Linked DNA regions of Homo sapiens: region 1 is linked to region 2. A link means that fine-mapping ties the variant in region 2 to the expression of a gene that starts in the linked region. Tissue or cell type: lung. Region 2 holds a variant in brackets; the other region holds the start of a gene. All regions are shown on one strand. Distances are between the middles of the regions.

What was found. PIP is the estimated chance that this variant, and not a neighbour inherited with it, causes the effect.
Region 1: it holds the start of AADAC, and the variant in region 2 is fine-mapped to the expression of AADAC in lung (TOPMed, PIP above 0.99). The same link has a PIP of 0.9 or more in sun-exposed skin.

What each region holds. Positions count from the first base shown.
Region 1 is chr3:151,810,037-151,823,732 of GRCh38, forward strand. It overlaps AADAC (arylacetamide deacetylase), which reads left to right and starts at 4,080. Exons shown (of 5, transcript NM_001086.3): 1 at 4,080-4,264; 2 at 7,330-7,552; 3 at 10,347-10,416. The coding sequence starts at 4,127. The region is part of intron 1 of AADACL2-AS1 (AADACL2 antisense RNA 1); the gene reads right to left.
Region 2 is chr3:151,834,089-151,842,817 of GRCh38, forward strand. The region is part of intron 1 of AADACL2-AS1 (AADACL2 antisense RNA 1); the gene reads right to left. Among named protein-coding and RNA genes, the nearest start is that of AADAC, 24 kb to the left of the region's middle. The variant A/C (reference allele first, on the strand shown) is at 4,485.

The sequences.
Region 1 (13,696 bases), 22 kb before region 2:
GATGACCTCCTTCTTTGCAGCCCCTCCCTAGAGGACTCCAAACTCACACCATCACCCTACTAAACTCTCTTTCTAGCAAAAGATATAGGGTCTCCCCCTCCAAAGCCCAACTATCTGCCCCAACAGTAACATACTTAGGAGTCCAACTCTCCCCTGGGGCCCAAGCCATGACCCCAGCACAAGCAACCTTAATAAACAGCTTGCCTCTGCCTTCCTCAAAAAATGAAATTCTCTCTTTCTTAAGACTAGAAGGTTTCTTTAGAATATGGATTCCCAACTTTGCCCTCCTGGCTCAACCCCTCTACGAAGCAGCCAAAGGCCCCCTCAATGAACCCCTAAGCCCCATACACAACATACTTCCCAGTTTCTGTAAACTCCAAACTGCTCTCATCACTGCACCTGCCCTGTCCTTACCCGACCTCTCCCAACCCTTTGTTCTCTATACCACCAAAAATCAAGGAATAGCTCTTGGGGTCTTAGGGCAACAAAAGGGAAATCCTCCTTCCTTTGACCCTGTAGCATATCTCTGTAAACAACTAGACAACACTGTCAAAGGGCAGCCAACCTGTCTTAAAGCATCATCAGCAGTGGCCGTTTTGCCTCTGGAAAGCAAAAAACTAACATTTGGCCAAAGCACCACCATTCACAGCCCTCACAACTTACAGGATCTCCTCTCCTCCTGGGCATTAAGCTCCCTCTCTCCTTCCCAAATTCAGTCGCTCTACGCCCTCTTTATCAAAAATCCTGAATTCAGCCTTGCCAAAAGTGCCCCCCTCAACCTGGCATCCCTACTTCCCATATCCTCTTCCCCTCCTACTCATTCTTGCACTGACATTCTGGATCACTTGCAGCCACAATTCCCTAACATCTCCTCCAAGCCTCTCACTAATCCAGATGACCAACTATTTATAGATGACTCCTCTTCCAGAGCCCCCGGCTCTCCCAAAATTGTTGGGTATGCAGTAGTTACCTTAAACCATGTAATTGAGGCTAAACCCCTACCCCCAGAAACCTCCTCCCAGAAAGCAGAACTCAGCTCTCACAAGAGCCCTAACCCTCTCCAAGGACAAACAGGTCAACATATACACAGACTCCAAGTATGCCTACCACATTCTTCATTCTCATGCCGCCATCTGGTAAGAGAAAAAATTCCTTACTGCCAAAGGAACCCTCATTACTAATGGCCCCCTTATTTACCAACTCCTTCAGGCTGCACACCTCCCAACTGAAGCAGGAGTCATACACTGTCGAGGACAGTAAGCAGGTTCAGATGAAATCTCAAGAGGAAATAGGCTGATGAGCACCGAAACAGGCCTCTCTTTCTCCTATCCCTGCCCCCATCCTCCTTGTCACCCCAGCAGTCCAACCCAGATACTCTCCCACCAAAAACTCTTCACTACTACAGCAAGGAGCCTCCCTTCAAGGGGACTGGATAATCAAAAACCAAAAGCTCATTCTTCCCCAAGAGCAAACCAAGGAAATTCCAACATCTCTTCACCAATCCTTCCATATCAGTGGGCGCCCCCTGTACCTACTCCTTCACCCTTATTTCTCCTCCCCCCATCTATTCACCTCACTAAAGGACATAACCTCAAACTGTCATATATGCTCTGTTACTTCCTCCCAAGGGGCCCTCCGCCCTCTCCTCATCCCTACACATCAGCTCAGAGGAACACTCCCAGGGGAGGACTGGCAAGTAGACTTCACCCACATGCCTCCTGTCAAAAAAACTAAATATTTTCTTACTCTCATAGACACTTTTTCAGGTTGGGTAGAAGCATTTCCTACCCCTTCAGAAAAATCTCTCAAATTCTCATAACAAAAATCATCCCTAGATTTGGTCTCCCTTGTTCCATACAATCAGATAATGGGCCTAGCTTCATCTCCCAAATTACCCAACAAGTCTCTCAATCCCTTGGTGTTCAGTGGTGCCTCCATATCCCATACCAGCCCCAGTCATCTGGAAAAGTCCAAAGGGCAAATGGAATTCTCAAAACTCAGTTAACCAAACTCACACTTGAGGTTAAAAAACCTTAGACCTCCATTTTACCCATAGCACTGGCTCATATCAGAGCCAGTCCAAAGGCCCCCTCCTTCCTCAGTCCATTCGACTTAATGTATGGATGCCCTTTCCTCTTACAAAACAGACCCCCTCCTGAGTATCAATTAGAATACCTCCCAACACTCTCCCTCATCCATCATCTCCTCTGCGAACAAGCTGACCAGGCCCCCACAAAACCCCACCAAGGCACCACTGACCAAACACTCCTTCCAGGAGAATATGTCTTCCTAAAAATCAACAAGTCTCATGCCAAAGTGCGAAATCCCTTTCCAAGTCCTTCTCGCTACCTCCACTGCAGCCAAACTTTGAGAACACAAGTCTTGGTACCATCTTTCCAGGTTAAAAAGAGCACCTGCAGCTGACCCATCACCAACTAACCAACCAGCTGTTCCCTGCAAATACTCCAGCACTCTTCTCAGACCAATTCGACTCCGCCTAACGCCCATGCCTGAAGACCCCACTCTTCCCTCATGAACCATAGCAGATAAGTTATCACCCCTTACCATTAAGTATCCAAACCCTTATTAATGGAAATCATCCATTACGCTGCCCTTGCAGGAATCACCCTACTTACTCTACTCTTTGCCATAGGAATATATACTGTCTTGCCTCCTGGGTGGAATTTCAGACAAAAAAAACTCAATATTCGTAACCTCTTGCCTCATAATCCTCCTCATAGCAGGTATAATAGCCACCACCAACAGATAGTGGCCCCTCCTAAATGTCCTGTCTTTGCCCATCCTGGCATTTCACACTCTTCCTTCACTGCATCACAGAAAACCTTTCATGGTCCTACCCAGAACATCCCACCCTCACAGCATTCCTTGATTGGATCACCAATCTTATATTTCAAGGGGATTTACAGGAATTCACTCCAGATGAAGCCGAATTCTTTACCTTTACACTTGCTCTCTGTCTATTTACTCCTTCTTCCCTCCTCCTTCTCGCTACCGCTCCACCTACAGCGCACCATTCCACAGGCACATATGATACTCAGTCAAACTAACCCCTCCCTGGCCAAGGCCTGCTGGTACACCCCTCAGAAACCGTATCAAAAGATGTCTTCCCAGCTCCCCTCAAAGACTGGGTTCTCAGCAATATGACCCTCCACCCCCGCTACCAAAGTTTTGGAGAAGTAAATGCACTCAAAAGTTACAAACTCAATCTTACCACACATACTGCAGAACACAAGGTTATCTTAGGAACACTTACCCCAGACTCAGAACTCAGTCAACCAGCATCCCTATGCATAAAGCGTGAACTTTCCAAAGGAGTGCCCCTAGGCACCCTCTCCTCTAGCTTATGCAACTGTACCCTAACACTCACTCCCCCGACAGGCATCCAAACAATAACAGAAAAAAACCCCACACAAACTCTCAAAATCTCCAACCCCCGTCAGACCCAAGTCACGGGAGAAACATCAGGATTCTGCAATAACTGACACAGGCCCTGCATAGAAATCGCAGGGTGGAACACTTGCCTAAACCCCGTCCCCACTTCCCAATGCATGGAAATCCCACTGCCTAACACACCCTCAAACAAACTACTTATTGACACAAAACGCTTCTTATGGACTCAGCCTGGGTGACAGAGGAAGATTCTGTATCAAAAAATATATATATATACACACACACATATATATGTATATATATGTGTGTGTGTATATATATAATTTGTTTTTTCCATGATAAGCTATTTTAAAACAAAGATTCTGAATTCTGTATGTTTTCTATGGATAATTTTGTTAGAGTTAAAGAATTTGTTCCCGAGTTATTACTCAATACATGCTGTTTATTGGAATACAGATAACAGCATGATCATTGACAAACTTTGCCCTAGTTTCCTATTACTCATTAAACCTTGAAGTTGCACTTAACATGACTGTATCTGGATAACAGATAAAATTTTGGCCTTATTATGCCAACCCTTAAACTAAGTGAGCAACTCTGTTTTCAAAGCTTTTGGGTGGAGCTGAAGCACACTGCTTATTAAAGTACACTATTCAGGCATATCATGTAGGTTTACTTTCTGTGTTTCTAGAGACCAAGAAGCGGGACGTTCACCATGGGAAGAAAATCGCTGTACCTTCTGATTGTGGGGATCCTCATAGCATATTATATTTATACGCCTCTCCCAGATAACGTTGAGGAGCCATGGAGAATGATGTGGATAAACGCACATCTGAAAACTATACAAAATTTGGTAAGTTTGGAATTTTATGAATTCAGATGTGCATACACCACCATTTGACCCAGAGAATTAAGTTTTTCAAGATTCTATTCTTTTGATTTATTGACTTATTCATCTTTTAAAATAACTGCTGTGGCCTTTGACAATGTGTTACTTAGAAATGTTGTTTGTTTTCTGTCTTATGTATTGGAATCATGTTAAAAAAATATCAAGAACAGCAAGCAAGGAGTCATTTGAATAGGTTTTGCTAAAAAGTACTTTGTTTAGGTAGCTTTAATATCACGATAGTGGCTCTCCTTTGAAATTCTTATCTTAGGTATGGTTTGTTCCTTAAATTTTATACTCAAATTAGAGATCATCTGATTATGCAGCACTGTGTTAGTTACAGATTTTTATGCACTTATCTTTGGGATTCAGAATATAGACTAAGGACACGTAAATAAGTTCTCAAGAAAAGATTCAATGGGCAGGCTGGTTGGCACATGCCTAGGGTTAACCACGAGACGGCACAATATGCACAAATGAGAGGGGGAGGGAGACCTGGGTGTCCTGGCAACTGGGCAGCTTGGATGCTGGCAAATTAAAAAGGTGTAGCTCTCTCTGGATCCTTGATGATATTTTACTATTACTTCTTTGGTTATTTTATTATCTTCATTAAAACAAATCTCTTTTCAGAACTTAAACCAGATAAATGTTGTAACTCCTGGATTAATCTTTTATTTTGCATTTATTCAACAATTCAACTGTCTCAAATCCTATTAGGCAAACAAGTAGTCTATCCCCACACAGTTGACATTCTAGTGGTGGAGAAAAAAATAAATTAGAATTAAATGAATAAATGATTTTAGTTCATGAGAAGTACCTTTAAGGAGGTAAGATGGAAGAAAAGAGAGTAATTTGGGCAGAAGGCAAGAGTGGGCTACTGTATGCATGGTGAGAAAAAGCCATTCTGAAGAGGAAACAGCTACTTAGGGACCAGAAGAATGAAAAGAAACCAACCATTCTAAGTGCTAAGAAAAATGTTTTCCAGCAGAGACACCAACAAGTAAAAACACCCCAGCTACAGAATATTGACAAGTCCAAGAAATCATATGAAACATTTGGGTTTAATGGGGAAATTGTTGCAATTAGTTTGGAGAGGTTAGAAGCCATATCATACAGTGCTTTGTGGGCACTGGTAGTAAGTTTTGATTTAATTCTGTATGTGATGCAGAGCTATTAAAGAGCTTTAAGAAAGGGACACATTTTTTTCCCTCATATTTGCTGTCTGTGCTACAATATGTGAGAGGTCTTTGATTTTTTTCTTGGAGTCTTTATATTAATTTTTATTTATTTAAGCAATTATATATATATTCTTCTCTGGTAGCCTTTTAATTAATTAATTCATTCATTTACTTACATTCTGTCCACAATTTATGAAAGTAATGTATTTTCAGAGCTCTCAGTCGATATACCTTTTAAAAGTTGTTTTAATGCCCTTTCTTATTCCTGAATTATCTGCTTGTTTGTTTGCTTGCTTTTTTGTGATCGTTTATGCTCCTGGTTTGTCCCTTTTTTCCTGATTAGTTTTGCTGGCTTCTCTGAAATGTCTGGCAATCTTTGAGTGTTCATACCCTTTATTAAAGGATTATGTTATGAACATTACATCAAGAATCAAACTACTGGATTGAGAATCCTGGTAAATATCATTTACTAGTTGTGTAGGCATGGACGACATATTTAACCTTCCTGGGCTCACTTTCCTCATATCTGACATGGATAAGAAAATGTTATCTTCCTCCCATATAAGCAAGTTGTTAATATTACTGAGATGACTACAATAGAGTGCTCAGAACACTGACTCATTCTACAGTGAAAGGATGGGCTGCAGGCAGGCAAGCTGCCCTCCCTTTTTCTCCCACTCATTCCTTCCCTCCCAACCCTGACTCCCAGCTCCCATGTGCAACCAGCTCCATAGCCACACCTCACTGCACCTCCCTATTTCTAAACTAAACCAGTTCCTCGACCTGCCAGGGTTTTTCCTTTTCTTATTTGGTTAGCAAAAGACTTAGGAAAAGGTATTTATTTCAAGCCTCAGACAAAATTGCTTTTCCAGTTTCTACTCCCAAGTAGCTTTTTGTAATCACCTGCTGTTCGCTCCCAAAGTACTTTGTACAGAGCTCTGTAATAGTATTTACATTGTTTTGTAACCATTTATTTGTCTTTCACACTTAACTCTGAGATTCTTGAGAAGAGCATTTGTCTGGTTCATCTCTGAAACCGTAAAGCTTGGTAGAGAGCCTGACACATTTTAGTGACATAGGAACTAAATTAGTAGCAGGGGTCACAATAAAACTTCATCTTTGCCCTCTGAAAGTTGCTGAAAGTCAACTGACAGGTCTGGTTAATAGAAGAAAAAGGCATATACATTTTTAGCATACATAATAGACTTACAAAATATAAAATCTCAAAGAAATGGCCAGATGGTTGACACTTTTTTTTTACTATCTTGAGGTTACAGAAAGAATGGTGGCTTGGCCAAAAAATGATATGGTGGCAAGACAGGTTATGGGAAGGAGAGAAGAGGAGACATGGTTAGCAAAAGTGGTCTTGTTATATAGATGGATCCTCACAGGTAGCAGCCCTCAGAGAGAACAGATGGTAAAAATTTCTTTCAGACTTTTAAAGGTGTCAGATTCTCAGTTGATTTTTCCTAGATCTGGACAAATGAAGGCTCTCAGAAGCCATCAATGCAGATTTTCTCTACAGATGCAAATCACCTCCACAAAAGAAAAGCTTTCCAGCTAATCTTGTATTTCCAGCCCTTCTGAAAAGCTACCTTGCATTATGTCAAGGAGATATATTTTGGGATGAAATATTTTTATTTCCTTCACAGTGTATTCCCTCTTTTTTAAGAACCACCCTAGGCATAACCTTTGCATTTCTGGTTTCTTTTAAAAGGACCAAGCAGGATTCATGCATGAAAATTTAGTTCATTCCATTTGAGTTTATTAAGGGTTAATGTCTACCTATAAGTCCATAGATCTCTTTGCCATTTGATACTTGAATTTCAGGAGGTTTGTGAATTTCATTTTTAGGCTACATTTGTGGAGCTCCTGGGACTTCACCATTTTATGGATTCCTTTAAGGTTGTCGGGAGCTTTGATGAAGTCCCACCAACCTCAGATGAAAATGTCACTGTGACTGAGACAAAATTCAACAACATTCTTGTTCGGGTATATGTGCCAAAGAGAAAGTCTGAAGCACTAAGAAGGGGGTTGTTTTACATCCATGGTGGAGGCTGGTGCGTGGGAAGTGCTGGTAAGTGAATGCTTTGAAAAATCTCTGTCACTGAGGTAGTTCGCAGACATTTTACTAAGTCTTCAGTAGGTACACATGCCCTTCGGCATGGACATTACTGCCTCTTTTATCTTCTCGTGCTTTGTTCTGGCAAAGTTTTACTTTTCCCTGAAGCTTTATATCACTCTTTTCCACATATGCATTTCCTCATCAACCCAGGTAGAGGTGAGAAGAAACTTTTTTTTTCTATTTATCACAATTACTCTAAGAAAGCCTTGTTATTTCTATCATTCTCCACTTGATATTACAGAACCATTTAATGTTTTCATCCATTTACTCATATTTACTATATGTCTGGTAATATTTTTATATCTTTGAATATATTTTTGAATTGACAAAATTTCCTCACGCCTGTAATCCCAGCACTTTGGGAGGCCAAGGCGGGTGGATAACTTGAGGTCAGGAGTTTGAGACCAGCCTGGCCAACATGGTGAAACCCTGTATCTACTAAAACAATACAAAAATTAGCCGGGTGTGGTGGCGGGCACACATTATCCCAGCTACTCGGGGGGCTGAGGCAGGATAATCACTTGAACCCAGGAGGCGGAGGTCGCAGTGAGCCAAGATTGCACCGTTGCACTCCAGCCTGGGCAACAGAGCAAGACTCTGCCTCAAAAAAAAAAAAAAAGAAAAAAATCCTGTCTTCCTGTATTCTTGGATCTTACATTCTAATGGAGACAATCTTTGATCGATAAATAAGTAAATAATACAGTGTGTTTTAAAGTGATAAATGTAGGAAATAATAGGCCAGAATGTTAGAAGAAAAACCTTAGACAAATTAAATTTAACAGAGTTTAATTGAGCAAAGAACTACTTGTGGATCAGGCACCCTCCTGAACCAGAATAGGTTCAGAGAGTCACCAGCGCTGCCTCCTGGTCGAAGAAGAGTTATAGGTAGAAAAAGGAAAGTGACATTCAGAAAACAGAAGTGAGGCACAGAAATAGGCGGATTGGTTACAGCTCAGCGTTTGCCTTATTTGAAACTGGTTCCACAAGTTGGTTACCTTTGGCTGAAACTCAGTGATTGGGACAAGAGTAGATTACACATCCAATTAAGTTACAACTCACTGTGTATCAAGAAACCTTTAAAATATGCAAAGAGGCAGCTTTAGGCTAAACTTAGTTTATTTGGCAAGAGTAATCAAGATTGGGTGTGAAGGTTGTATATTTCTTGATGTATAGAATTACAGCAGAAAGACAAAAACATTTAGAAGTGGAAGCACTGGGATAAAAGTCCCAATTATGTGAGAAAATCACCTAACCCACCTGAGTCCTAGGGCTCTTGAGATTCATCTGTTTACCTCCAATGAATACAGTATAGATTAACTGGAGGAGTGAAGATTGGACTGGACCTACTAAGTTAAGAACTCTGAACTCTAGAGAGGAAGAATAAATTAGTCCTGAAAAGAAAAGGTTACAGGCTTGAAATTAAGCAAATTTGTCCATTGATGTGGGAAGTTAGAGGAGAAAAAGACAGAAGATTAAAAAAATAGATCTGAATGAGTGCCTCATTTCTGACAGGATGACTGGGAGGGTGAGAACAGATTTCTGGGGAATGCAAACAAAATTGTTGGGTGAAGGAATAAGCAGACAGCAAAGCACTGAGGTGGTCAAAAATGTCAGAAAATGAAAAGAAAGCCGAAGAAGGTGAGAACCTCAAGAAAGAGGAAATAATAGAAGTCCTGCATCGTGTAGAGATGTCAAGTAAGTAGGATGGAAGTATGTCTCTTGGATGTTGAACTTTCTATGTTAATATTGTTGAGGAGAGACTTGCTGACATGATGGGATATTCACAGAGAAACACATTACAGCAAGCAAAAAGTGAGAGGGAAGAAAATAAAATGGTTAGAATAATTGCTGGCCTTAAAAGGACTTAGTTGTGAAATAAATAAGCAAGAAAATTATAGATTGAAATGAGAGTTAAGTAGGAGAATTTTCTTTTATTTTTGTGCAGGAGAAATATAAACAAGTTGGTAGACTGAAATAAATGAAGGCAATAAGTAGAAATATGTTAGCCAAGTAATGGGCTGGGAGTGTTGACTGATAGATACACATCCCAGAGGAAATGAAAGGGAAGAAGATTTAGAGCACTAGTAAAATAATTGGATATAGATAGGAAGGTTGGAAATGGAAAAAAAGAGCATTACGTCTTCCTCTTAGACAAGAGAAAAAGAGGCAAAGAGAGGCCTCAGCTAGATACATTCTTAAAGTAGTAGTACAGATGCAAGCAGTAAGTTCCAGTGTTTGTTTAAGGGGACCTAGTTCTATTCCACTTATATTCAGGTGCCTTTTCTATTGTCCCATGCAGACTTAGGTGATCCTTCTATATTGCAACAATTCTGTCTATATCTCCTTGGCTCACATATCTGACAACGTATTGATCAAGTTAGCGACTTGTCTTTTTATCTTTGTATACCCATCATCTAAAACAGAGCCAAATCAGTACCTCCTTCCAGTATACACAGTTGGGTTAATCTAGAGAATGAGTCTGACACAGAAGGATCAATGGCAAAATGTGCAAGACAAAAGATAAAAGGGAGGAAGAGCATTAGGAGGTTCACTGGGAAACTTGAATTCCACTGAGTCATGAATGGATGGCTTCTTATAAATACAGTGTTAAATTTGTCTCTCGTATTTTAAGGTAAAATAGAACTGCCAGAACGTGAAAGAAGTGCAGCAGGATTTTTGTGAAGGAAACAGCCTTGTCTTCATTTGTCTGTTTTACTAATATGTTGCTTTTATCCTTTTATTTCAGCTCTAAGTGGTTATGACTTGCTGTCAAGATGGACAGCAGACAGACTTGATGCTGTCGTCGTATCAACCAAGTAAGAGCTGTGCTGTTTGGTTTCCTGGCCAGATGTCTGACATGCCAAGATTTTCTCAGCTTTCTTTTTTTTTTTTTTTTTTTGTGATGGAGTCTCACCCTGTCACCCAGGCTGGAGTGCAGTGGCAGGATCTCGGCTCCCTGCAACCTCCTCCTCCCGGGTTCAAGTGATTCTCATACCTCAGCCTCCCGAGTAGCTGGGATTACAGGCACGAGTCACCACACCCGGCTAATTTTTTTATTTTCGGTAGAGATGGGGTTTCACCATGTTGGTCAGGCGTGTCTTAAACTCCTGACCTCAGATGATCCACCCTCCTTGGCTTCCCAAAGTGCTGGGATTACAGGCGTGAGCCACCGCGCTCAGCCGATTCTCTCAGCTTTCTCAGCCAATGCATGATCATGCCAAAAATAAATGTTTCTCAGATGACACTAAGTAGGCAACTGCAAGTGAGTGCTAGGCTTAACCTGATTAGAGTTGAGAAAAAAAAATCTGTATATGTGTGTACACGTGTTATTTTGGCAAAAAGAAACAGCAAAAAGTAAAAATTTTTTTCACATAAATTCAAACTGTATCATTTATGGATATAATTACCTGGACGGTATTTCCTTTCAACCCTTAATTCCCAGTCTTTAAAAATGAGTGCCCTGGAGTCACAGGATCATCTATAAAAGTGCATCATAAATAATTTCCATCTCAGATGGTCACTGTGAAGAGTAAGTGATAACATCCTTGAAACAGAGTCCAGCGTATATAGCACTTGGTGAGCCTAAAATGTAGGCTATATAATTTTAAATATTTAAAATATAGCGTATAGTTTAGGCTCAACAAGTGTTATACACTGCGCTAAGTATATTAAAAATGTATTATCAAATTAAACAAAATAGATGAGTTCATATAAAATTATGTTAGATAAATAATCCACCTATGGAAAGAGCACTTAGGGACAGCAAAATTAGGGGCGGATTGCTGGGTAGACTCATGCCAGAGCAGTATATATTTAAATTGAAATTTCAGAGAGTAAATGAACAGTTAAAAAAATAACATACTCATCACCATTTGTCAAGTTAAATCATTATTATAAAGTTGGGACATAATCTTGATCAATATTTGGTTGTATGTGATCACTCATAAATATAGTGGCTAGAATAATATTTTGTAAAATGCAATTAGAAAATCCAAGCTTATGCTGTTTTGCATTCCAACTTTATACTTAAAGAGAATTTTCTTAAACATGGCAAGTCAAATTATAGTATAAGACCGACATCTGTGTTTAATTCATTGCAATGACTAATAAATCACTAGTACATGAAAGATAAAATATACTTTAAAATATTTATGCAAATATATGCCTTGCCTTCAAATATTCTCATTTTATTTATATTAAAGATGAAGAACTCCAGTATTCAAAGATAGATAATTTTGGTTATATTTAAATTAAAATGGCCAATAAGCATCTTTCATGTACTTGAAAGATAAAATATACTTTAAAATATTTATGCAAATATATGCTTTGCCTTCAAATAATCTCATTTTATTTATATTAAAGATGAAGAACTCCAATATTAAAAGATAGATAATTTTGGTTATATTTAAATTAAAATGACCAATAAGCACATGAAAAGATGCTCAATATCATTAGTCATTAGAGAAATGCAAATCAAAACCACAATGAAATACCACTTCACACCCACTAGGATGGGTATAATATATATATTTAAAAAGATAATAACAAGCGTTAGTGGGGACATGGAAAAATCAGAATCCTCTATACTGCTGGTGGGAATAAACACTTCGGCAGCTCCTTAAAAGTTCAAACAGAGTTACCATATTGACCCAGTATTTCCATTTCTAGGTGTATACACAAGAGAAATGAAAACATGCCCATATAAAAACTTGTATGTTCACAGAAGCAGTATTCATAAACCTTAAAAGTGGAAGCAACCCAATGTTCATTAACTGATAAATGGATGAATAAAATGTGGTATATCTATACAATTGAATATTTGAAATTCAATTGAATATTTAAATAAAATGTGGCATATCTATACACATATTCAGTTGTGTAAATATACCACATTTTATTCATCCATTTATCAGTTAATTATTCATTTGTTAATAAAAGGACCACTACAGTATGGACAAATTTTGAAAATATTATGCTAGATGAAACAAGCCAGTCATAAATGGAAAGTTTTGTGATTCCATTTATATAAAATGTCCAAAATAGGGCAAATGCATAGAGATAGAATGTAGATTAATGGTTGCCTATGATTGGGTTTGGAGGATGGGGAGAAATGAGAAGTGACTACTAATGGGTATAGGATTTCCTTTTGGCATGAGGAAAATCTTCCAAAATTGATTGTGGCAATGGTTGCACAACTCTGAATATATTGAAAATCACTGAATTGCATACTTATAATGTGTTAATTTTATGGGTTATGAATATCTCGGTAAAATGGTTATATTAAAAATTAAGGGCATACTTTTAATGTGTTAATTTTATAGGTTATGAATATCTCAGTAAAATGGTTATATTAAAAATTCAGGCTGGGTGCAGTGGCTCATGCCTGTAATCCCAGCACTTTGGGAGGCCGAGGCAGGTGGATCATGAGATCAGGAGTTTGAGACCAGCCTGGCCAACGTGGTGAAACTCCATCTCTACTAAAAATACAAAAATTAGCCGGGTGTGGTGGTGGGCACCTGTAATCCCAGCTACGCGGGAGGCTGAGGCAGGAGAATTGCTTGAACCTGGGAGTGGGAGGTTGCGGTGAGCCGAGATTGTGCCACTGGACTCCAGCCTGGGCAACAGAACTAGACTCTGTCTCCCCGCAAAAAAAAAAAATTAAGAAATTATGTTCATCAAAAGACATTAATAGAAGTCTTAAAGTTTGTGTGTGTATATATATGTGGGTATAGACATATGTATACTATAAAAGTTTTTAAATACATATATACATTTTCAAATCCAAAATATAAAAACACCTACCAATTAATAGAAGTATAGGCGAAAGACTCAGAAAGACAATTTACAGAAAAGGATATTGAAATCATCAAACAATATATGAAAATGTACTGTATACATCAGGAAAATACAAATTAAGACTATTATAAGATACCTGCATATACTCGAGATTATAGATAAAATGAGAAAGACATAAGATACCAAGTGTTGGTAAGGTTTTGAATCAACAGCACTTCCATAAGCTCTAGTTTGAGAATAACTTGGTAAACTACTTAGCAAAACTCTTTGACATTATTAAGTAAAGCTAAGCATATATGC
Region 2 (8,729 bases):
CTACCCAGAATTTTCCTTCATCAAGAAGCCCTTAGATGATTCCAAAAAAAGAACATTTGAAATAAAACCAATCTGGTGACAGAGAAAGATAAATATATTAACCACTTCAATTGATAGAAATAAGAATTTTGTTCTTCAGACTGGAAAGAAGGAAGGAAGCATACTGCCAAGAAAACCTTGACACTTGCCCTGAATTTGGAGGAACAAACAGGAGTCCCCAGTGAAGAGGATAGCTATGGGAAAGCATTTGCAACAGGAGAAACAATGCTTTGGAGATCCTGGAGGCAGTAAACCACATAGTTCACTTCATCCTTTGACATCTTTCCTAGAGAGTAGAAGGCAGGGAAGCTGGCTGGAGAAGTGAAGTTCTGAGGAGCCTGGGCTGCTGAGCCAAATACACTGAAGGTTGCTCTGATTGATGCAGTACGTGATATGATCTTTAGGAGAACAGTGTGGTAGGTGGACTGCAGAGACACTAAATGGAAACAGAATGAGGCCCTGGCTATACCTGCAGTGATTGTGTGGCCTGAGAAGCTGCAAAAAAACTAGGGGAGTGTCTCTGAGGAATTTGCAGGGACATAAGAATTTCAAGAGGAAGGGGGTAATTGGTTCTGTCAATGCTAAAAATAAGATGTGAAAAAGTGTCAGATAGTCTCCTAAAAACCTGTGGCTCATGCAGTTACTTTCTGTAACTTCCTTTTTCCTTCCCCAACCTTAAAATATAAGGGTGAAGTCAAGTCATTCCTTTATGACATAGGGCAGTGGTCTCATATTACTATCACACGAGAGTTTTAAAACATCATTTGCTGAAGCCACACCTTGAGCTATTATTATGTCTCAATCTCTGAAGGTATGGCCTAAGCATCAGTATTTTTTTGAAGCTCTTCACAAGATTTCAATGTACAGGAAGATCAAGAAACACTGACTTAGAGAGTGAGGAACATTTCTTTTCATGTACAGAGTTCCAACACCATTTAAGTGTTTCAATTTCCCAGTAGTAATATTTATCACCCACCAATAATATTCATCAGACTTTACTTTAGGAAATATATATCTTAGAAAATCCTACAGATAGATAGATAGATAGATAGATAGATAGATAGATAGACAGATAGATACAGATATACACATACATATATGTATATATGTATATATCATAGAACTAAATGAATATATAAATACGTGTGTGCACACATTTAGTTTTCACAATTTCATTAGGTAAACAATATATGTAGTATATATAAAAATATACATATATTTTTTGACATATATAAAATATATATATAAGTATACATATATATATATATATATATATATATATTTTTTTTTTTTTTTTTTTTTTTTTTTTTTTTTTGAGATGGAGTCTCACTCTGTTGCCCAGGCTGGAGTGCAGTGGCGCGATCTCGGCTCACTGTAACCTCCGCCTCCCGGGTTCAAGAGATTCTCCTGCCTCCGCTTCTGGAGCAGCTGGGATCACAGGCACCCACCACCACACCCGTCTAATTTTTGTATTTTTTAGTAGAGACGGGGTTTCGCCATGTTGGCCAGGCTGGTCTTGAACTCCTGACCTCAGGTGATCCGCCCTCCTCAGCCTCCCCAAGTGCTGGGATTACAGGCGTGAGCCACCGCTCCCGGCTGACAACAATATTAATAGGTATTTTGCAGAGAAGGAAAAGGAAGAAATTGAATTTACATGGGTTTCCAAGGTCCCATGGCTAATAAGTGGCAGAGCTGGAAGCCAACCCCCATAGGCCAGTTTCAAAGGCTTTGCCATCAATTGCTTAAGGATTTTGGAGACTACTTTTTGCTTTCTTAGAAAGGGTGGTAGGAAAACAAGGGAATCTGAATCATACAAATACCAGATTAAGTATAAAACCACTAACTAGGTAACCTCAGGAAAATCTCAAGATTCCTGAGACTGCCGCAAAGATCCACAGCTCTGTTGTTAATAGTGTGCAACGTGGATAATCAAGAGTTAATTATGCTTAGTTTCTTTACCATATAAACAAATCAATACCACTTCTGATGTACCTCAATAGTGGAAAAAGCATTTAACATTCTGCAATGAATCACTGCAAATTGGTATGTTGCTTTGGCCCTAAGTGTATGTGTTGGGGAGCGGCAGGAGGGAATTTGAGCTGCACAAATACCCAGTAAACCAAAAAGGTGCTCAGGCATTTAGAAACTCACCAGGTGCCAGAGGGGGCATGACACGCAGGATCCAGGAGAAGATTTTGATTTCCTCTGTGCTCTGAGCTCTTTAACCTGGACCTGAGGAATATCTGCCCAGCAACCCGTCAAAAGGAAGCAGTGGGAAAAAAAGCACACAGCTGTGGCTGGTGACCATTTTAACCTCAAAAAAACCACAGCTGCTGGTTGTTACCAAATGCCAAAAAATCACTAAACCTTGTTGATTGTTTCATGTAACTTATGTCTAGCCTTCTAGCCTTTAAAATTTTTCATTTACAGGAGGAGCAGTATTGAAAATAAATAAAATTAAATTAAAAAATAAAATAAAATAAACTTTTCATAGCTTTCCCGGAGTTTTTCAAGTTTATTTTATATTATATTATTGTTAAACGGGGTCTAATCTTGGTACCAGTACTTTAAATTATTCTCTTAGAATAAATATTCACAATTTCTTTCTCTTGATGCCAAAAAGAGATTAATTAGGGCTGGAATTATTTCCAATGGCATTTCAAAAATTCTTAGCTCCTCCTCTCCCTAGGCTTGAGCATTGTTATAAAATTAAAAATAGCCCATTTTGGAAAGTCCAAGATTCTTTAAAACTGAAGTCTCTTATAAAAAATCAAGAGGAGGCTGAGAGGAGGCTTCTCTCTCATTTGCCAATTTCTTTAAAACAAGAGGCACCGTTGTCAGTACTTTTAAAGTGCTGAAAAAGACTACAAGCCTGCAAAAGAAGGCTGAGTGTTTCATTCTAGAGCTGTTTTTTCTTAGTGAACATCCATTGACTTCATTTGGAGGTTGTATCTGAGTGAGCCCTCTTTCTTACAAGTAAAGTAAAACACCAGTCAGCTGAACTCTTTATCAAACATACTCTTCATTTATCTCTTGATGACACAATGTCACTCTTCCCTTTCAAGCTGAGCCTTCAGATTCTCCAAAGGTTTCGACCTCCCACAAAGTCTTCACGAGGTGACTCGCTCTTCAAGGAGCCCTGCTATTATGCCATATGGTGTTATGACTCAGCAAACCTGCAGTCCCTTCTACTTCCGAGACCTGGAAAGACATGTTCTAACTGCTTCTGGATGAACCAGGCATACCAGTATTAGTTCATGCCATCCAAAAAGAAACTTCATGTTCTTTTTAACTCTAAATTACTAAAGCTAAAAGTTACAGTCTTCTGATCTTCAAGAGTTCCCAGAATTATGCTCTCTGGTGATTAAACTCCCTTCCCTAAAAAGTGGCTCATCCTAATAGTGCAATGTTCACTATGTGTCAGCTTTAAAATTCTATGCCTGTAAAATACTCGAAGTTTAGAGAATGCATCTTTTTTCAAACGCTTCTTAACTTTCTGAGGGTGAGGACCAATTTAACAGGATTACATGTAAATTGGCCTTTCAGCTATGACCATTTCAAATCTTGGAAAATTTTTCTCCTGCATACGCTTTATCCTTAAGTAAAGATACATAGTATCTATTTAGAGATCTAATCACAACTTTATAACCTTTAAAATATTTATTCTATAAATTAAATACCAAATATGAACATATAGCGTGTACACATATGCATATATGTACATATGTATGTGTGTGTATATATAGGTATACACATATACATAAAATCTCAAACAAAGAAATTGTCAATAAGATTAAACTGTGGCTCCCTGGAGTATACGAGAAGTTATATACATGAGCTAGAACTCAATCAGTAATTTGGAATTGAAGATTGGCTTAGGAAATAAGAAACTTCATACTTTATACTAATTTAAGTAAAACACTTTGCTTGAATATATTTAAGTATATAGACTGTTAGATGAATTCTATTTTTAATCTAATTAAATTAGAAGTAACATGCATTAGTATATTAGCTAAATCTCATTTATTTACAGTGAATCGAAGTTGGACATATTCCTTGAAAATATTTTGAAAATTATTTTAATGATTAAGAATCAATTAAAAAGAGATTTTACTTTATTTGCTAAAGAATGACTTTCAATAGTTTAGTCTCAAAATTGTTACACATGATTACCAGTGTGAAATATATGAGCAAAGATAAAAATAATACCTCCCTGCCAAAAACAGCTCCTGTTAGAAAATATTTTATTAACTAATCAAATAATCTTCTGGTAAATACAGAGAGATGTTTAAAGGTTGCAATCGAATTACAAGGACACAATAAAACTAAAGGAAATGCAAGAATGCCAGAACCGTTTATTAATAAAATACTGATTTATACAATTGATATTAAAAATGACAGTTATTTTGTCGTTTTCTTTTGAAAATAAGCAAATTATGCCTGTA[A/C]TCTCAGCACTTTGGGAAGCCGAGGTGGGCGGATCACGAGGTCAGGAGATGGAGACCATCCTGGCTAACATGGTGAAATCCTATCTCTACTAAAAATACAAAAAATTAGCCAGGCATGATGGAACGCGCCTGTAGTCCAGACTACTCGGGAGGCTGAGGCAGGAGAATCACTTGAACCCAGGAGGTGGAGGTGGCACTGAGCAGAGATTGCGCCGAGATTGCGCCACTGCACCTCAGCCTGGGCAACAGAGCGAGACTCTGTCTCAAAATAAACAAACAAACAAACAAACTATTATTTAAAAATTAATGTAAAATAATGGATTAGAAATTATTACAATTTACTTCTTCAGCTTAATCATGTATGATTTCCGTACAGTTTTCACTTAGAAGACAATAAGAGAGAAGATGCGTATCGTCAAATGAGTTTAGATTTTTAAGTGCTCAATTTTCCAATACAGTGCAAAGAAACTGAAATTGCTTTCGGTCAGAAGAAAATAAGATAAAATTCAGTAAAAAGGAAATAAAGCCAAATGCATTCAGTTGGAACGGAACTCCGCCAGTTAGTGACTACAGCGTAAGGATTGTTTTCTTTCATACGTTCTTAGTCTGCCCCCTTGTGGGCTCCAGAAAGCTGTTACCCAGCATAAGCTAACGTGATAAAGTTAGATATCCAATAAAATCATGTTTTAATAATTCCTTTAATGTGGTTTAGAAAAATGTCTAAACTTGCTTTAGTTTATCAAACAAAAGCATTTAAAATTATAAATAAATATCTCAAAACTTACACCTCTAAATAAATTGAAAGAAGATATTTCCTTTAATTCCTAAAATTCTTTTTAAGAATGAAATTACCCATCCTGGGCAACATAGCGAGAGTCTGTCTCTAAAACAATTAGCCAGGGATGGTGCCATAGTCCCAGCCTCTCAGCAGGCTGAGATGGCAGGATCCTTTGAGCCAAGGAGTTTCAAGTTTCAGTGAACTGCCATCATTATGCCACTGTGCTCCAGCCTGGGCTGAGAGAGGGAGGCTCCATCTCTCAAAAGAAAAGAAAAAGAAAATAAATTACTATATAAGCCTCATAGAAATTGGAACTATAAAGCAATTGTCAAAAAATGCTATCTGAAACAATCTAGCTGAGGTGGGTTTTTTTTGCATTTATTTAATGTTCCATGTATAGAATGGAAAGCATTTATGACTTCTTTGTAAAAATAAACTGCATTACTATTATTGGAGAGACGAAGAGGCACATTAACTACATTATCTTCTTGTAATTGAAAATTGCTCCGATGGAGATACTGCAAGTTTGAAGATCTGAACTTCATTGCCGATGTCATTGTCATTCCTTGATTTGCCTAAACTTAAAATTTCAACATTTGTAGATTAAAAGGTATCCTGTGATAACCATCTCCTGGCATATTTTATAACTAATAGATAAATATTGTTGATGTCTTTTAAATTAAATTCTTAAATTTTTAGTATTTAAATAGGCAATCACTAGGTAACTATAATCAATATGCTTGATTTTGTTTTTTATTACATATTCCATATGTTTCATTTTATCTTCTACATTACACACAGTCCTTCCATGAATTCAGGCATATGTTGTTTTTTCATTTTTGGCAGTACAATACACTTTTGGCTTTCCATGTTTAATTGGATGAGTAGATTCTTACAAAAAATAAGACAAAGAATAAACACTAATATTTCGATTAATTATAATACCATTTTCTCAAGTAGTGTTCCAGGATTCAGTATGACCATAACCTTTAAGTAAAGTTCAATACATTGTTTCAAGATAGAAAGCAAAGTAAAACCAGGTGGTACAAACTAAGTTACATGCTCATACAGGCCCACGCGCATGTGTGCACACACACACACATACACACACACTCACAATTTTCTTACCAACACATCTCTCTGTAACTCTTTGGTGATCCTGGACAAGGTTCCCACGCCTCTTTGGATTTAGTTTTCTCGCCTATGAAATGGTACTATATCAGCTGGTCAATATTTTTTTGAACTGAGGTCTACAGATCTGCTTATGTGTCCACAAGTGGTCCAGTAGAATTTTAAAGTACAGTTTTCCCTCAGTATCTCTAGGGAATTGATTCCAGGACCTCTCACAAATACCAAAATCCATTGATGCTCAAGTTCCTGTTATAAAATGGCATAGTATTTGCAAATACCAAAATCTATTGATGCTCAAGTTCCTGTTATAAAATGGCATAGTATTTGCATATAATCTAAGCAAATCCTCCTCTATAGATTATATGCAAATCCTCCTCTATTCAGTCATGAATCACTTAACCATAGGGATACATTCTGAGAAATGTTGTTAAGCAATTTTTTTGTTGCGTGAATTTCATAGAATGTACTTACACAAACCTAGATGATATAGCCGACTATACACCTAGGCTATATGGTACAGCCCTATCACTTCTAGGCTGCAAACCTGTACAGCATGTTAGGGTACTAAATACCACAGGCAATTGGAATACAACTGTATTAGTGTATCTAAACATATTTAAACATAGCAAAGGCAATGCCATGCACTATAATGTTAAAATGGCTGTGATATCACTAGACAGTAGAAAATTTTCAGCTTCATTAGAATGTTATGGGGCCACCATTGTATATGTGGTCTAAAACATCAATATGTAGCACATAACTGTACTTTAAATAAGCTCTAGGTTACTTATAATACCTCATCCAATGTAAATGATATGTAAATAGTTATTATACCATGTTGTTTAAGGAATATGACAAGAAAAAATGTCTGCATATGTTTAGTGCAGATGCGATTCAAAAAAATGTATTTTTGATCCAGGATTGGTTGAATCCACAGATGTATAACTCATGACTATGAAGGGATGACTGTGCTTTGTTTTTATAATTATGGTAATATAAACACATACACAAATTGTGGATCATTTAGATGACCACTTTATAACTGGGCACAGCCATGAAACCAAAACCTAAAGTCGAGGTTTTGAATTTTTAAAATTGAAAAATCTTTGTAGTCCTCATAGGTACTCTTGATAGTCCACAAGTGCCCAAATTTGAGAAACGTTTCTCAAATTCCTTTCAGCATTTAATATTGATTTAAAAATGTGATGCTCACTTGCTTTAAATGAAGCTACCAGCAGAAAGCAGCACACTGAAAAAAAAAAAGACAAAATTGCTTTTCCTCTATTAGGTTTGTGTGCTCAACTCCTATAAGCATCTTGAAAGAAGTAGAGCGATTTAGACGATAATGCATTTGACGTCTAAACCCAAGCAGTAACAGTGTTTGTGAAGGAAAACCTCCAGGAAGAGCTTGCTAAAATTTCTAACAAAATGATGTTAATCTATAGTGCTCTTTGTCAGCATGTAACAGAAGAGATGTCATAAACTCCGAGAGAAAAGAAAAGTCAAAACATTAAAAGGATTCGTGACATCAATGATACAGAAGCAAAGAATGTTAAACATTTCAAGGAAATACACTCCACAAACACAAAAGTCGCTCCCTTGTGGTTTCAAAATAATTGAACCTATGCAAAAATGAAGTTATTAATGAATGGACTGAACATTATTAAGAGCAATTTATCAAAAGAAAGATAGATTGCTGATCAGTTGCAGAATGAACATACTCCAAACGTAAAGATGGTTCAGAGTATTTGGACTAATCAATTGTAATAACTCAAAGCAGAAGGAAATAGATGGCAAGTAGAAAGACTAATATCTGTTGAGCTTCTAATGTGTGTTTATTTTAATCAAATAATTACTAAGATCATCTACTAATAACAATCATGGGTTCAAACTCTGTCTCTGCTAACAAATAGTTCAAAGCCCACAAATTTGTAAAGATCACTAAAAAAAAAAAGCAGAATTCAAAAATTGTCAAATACAGAATTCTTATTTTTGGGAGCCAATATAATTAGTTACCAATATTTATTTTTTGTTTGTTTTGGGGGTTTTTCATTTTATTTTTTGTTTTCTGGGTTTGTTTTTGTTTTGAGACAGGGTCTCACTCTGTCATCCTGGCTAGAGTGCAGCAGTGCAATTATGGCTCAGCCTTATCCTCCCCAGGCTCAGGTGATTCTCCCGTATCAGCCTCTGGAGTGGCTGGGACTACAGGCGTGTGCCACCATGCCAGGCTAACTTTGCTATTTTCTGTAGAGACCAGGGTTTTGCCATGTTCCCAGGCTGGTCTTGAACTCCTGGGCTCAAGGGATCCTCCCGACTCTGCCTCCCAAAGTAGAGGG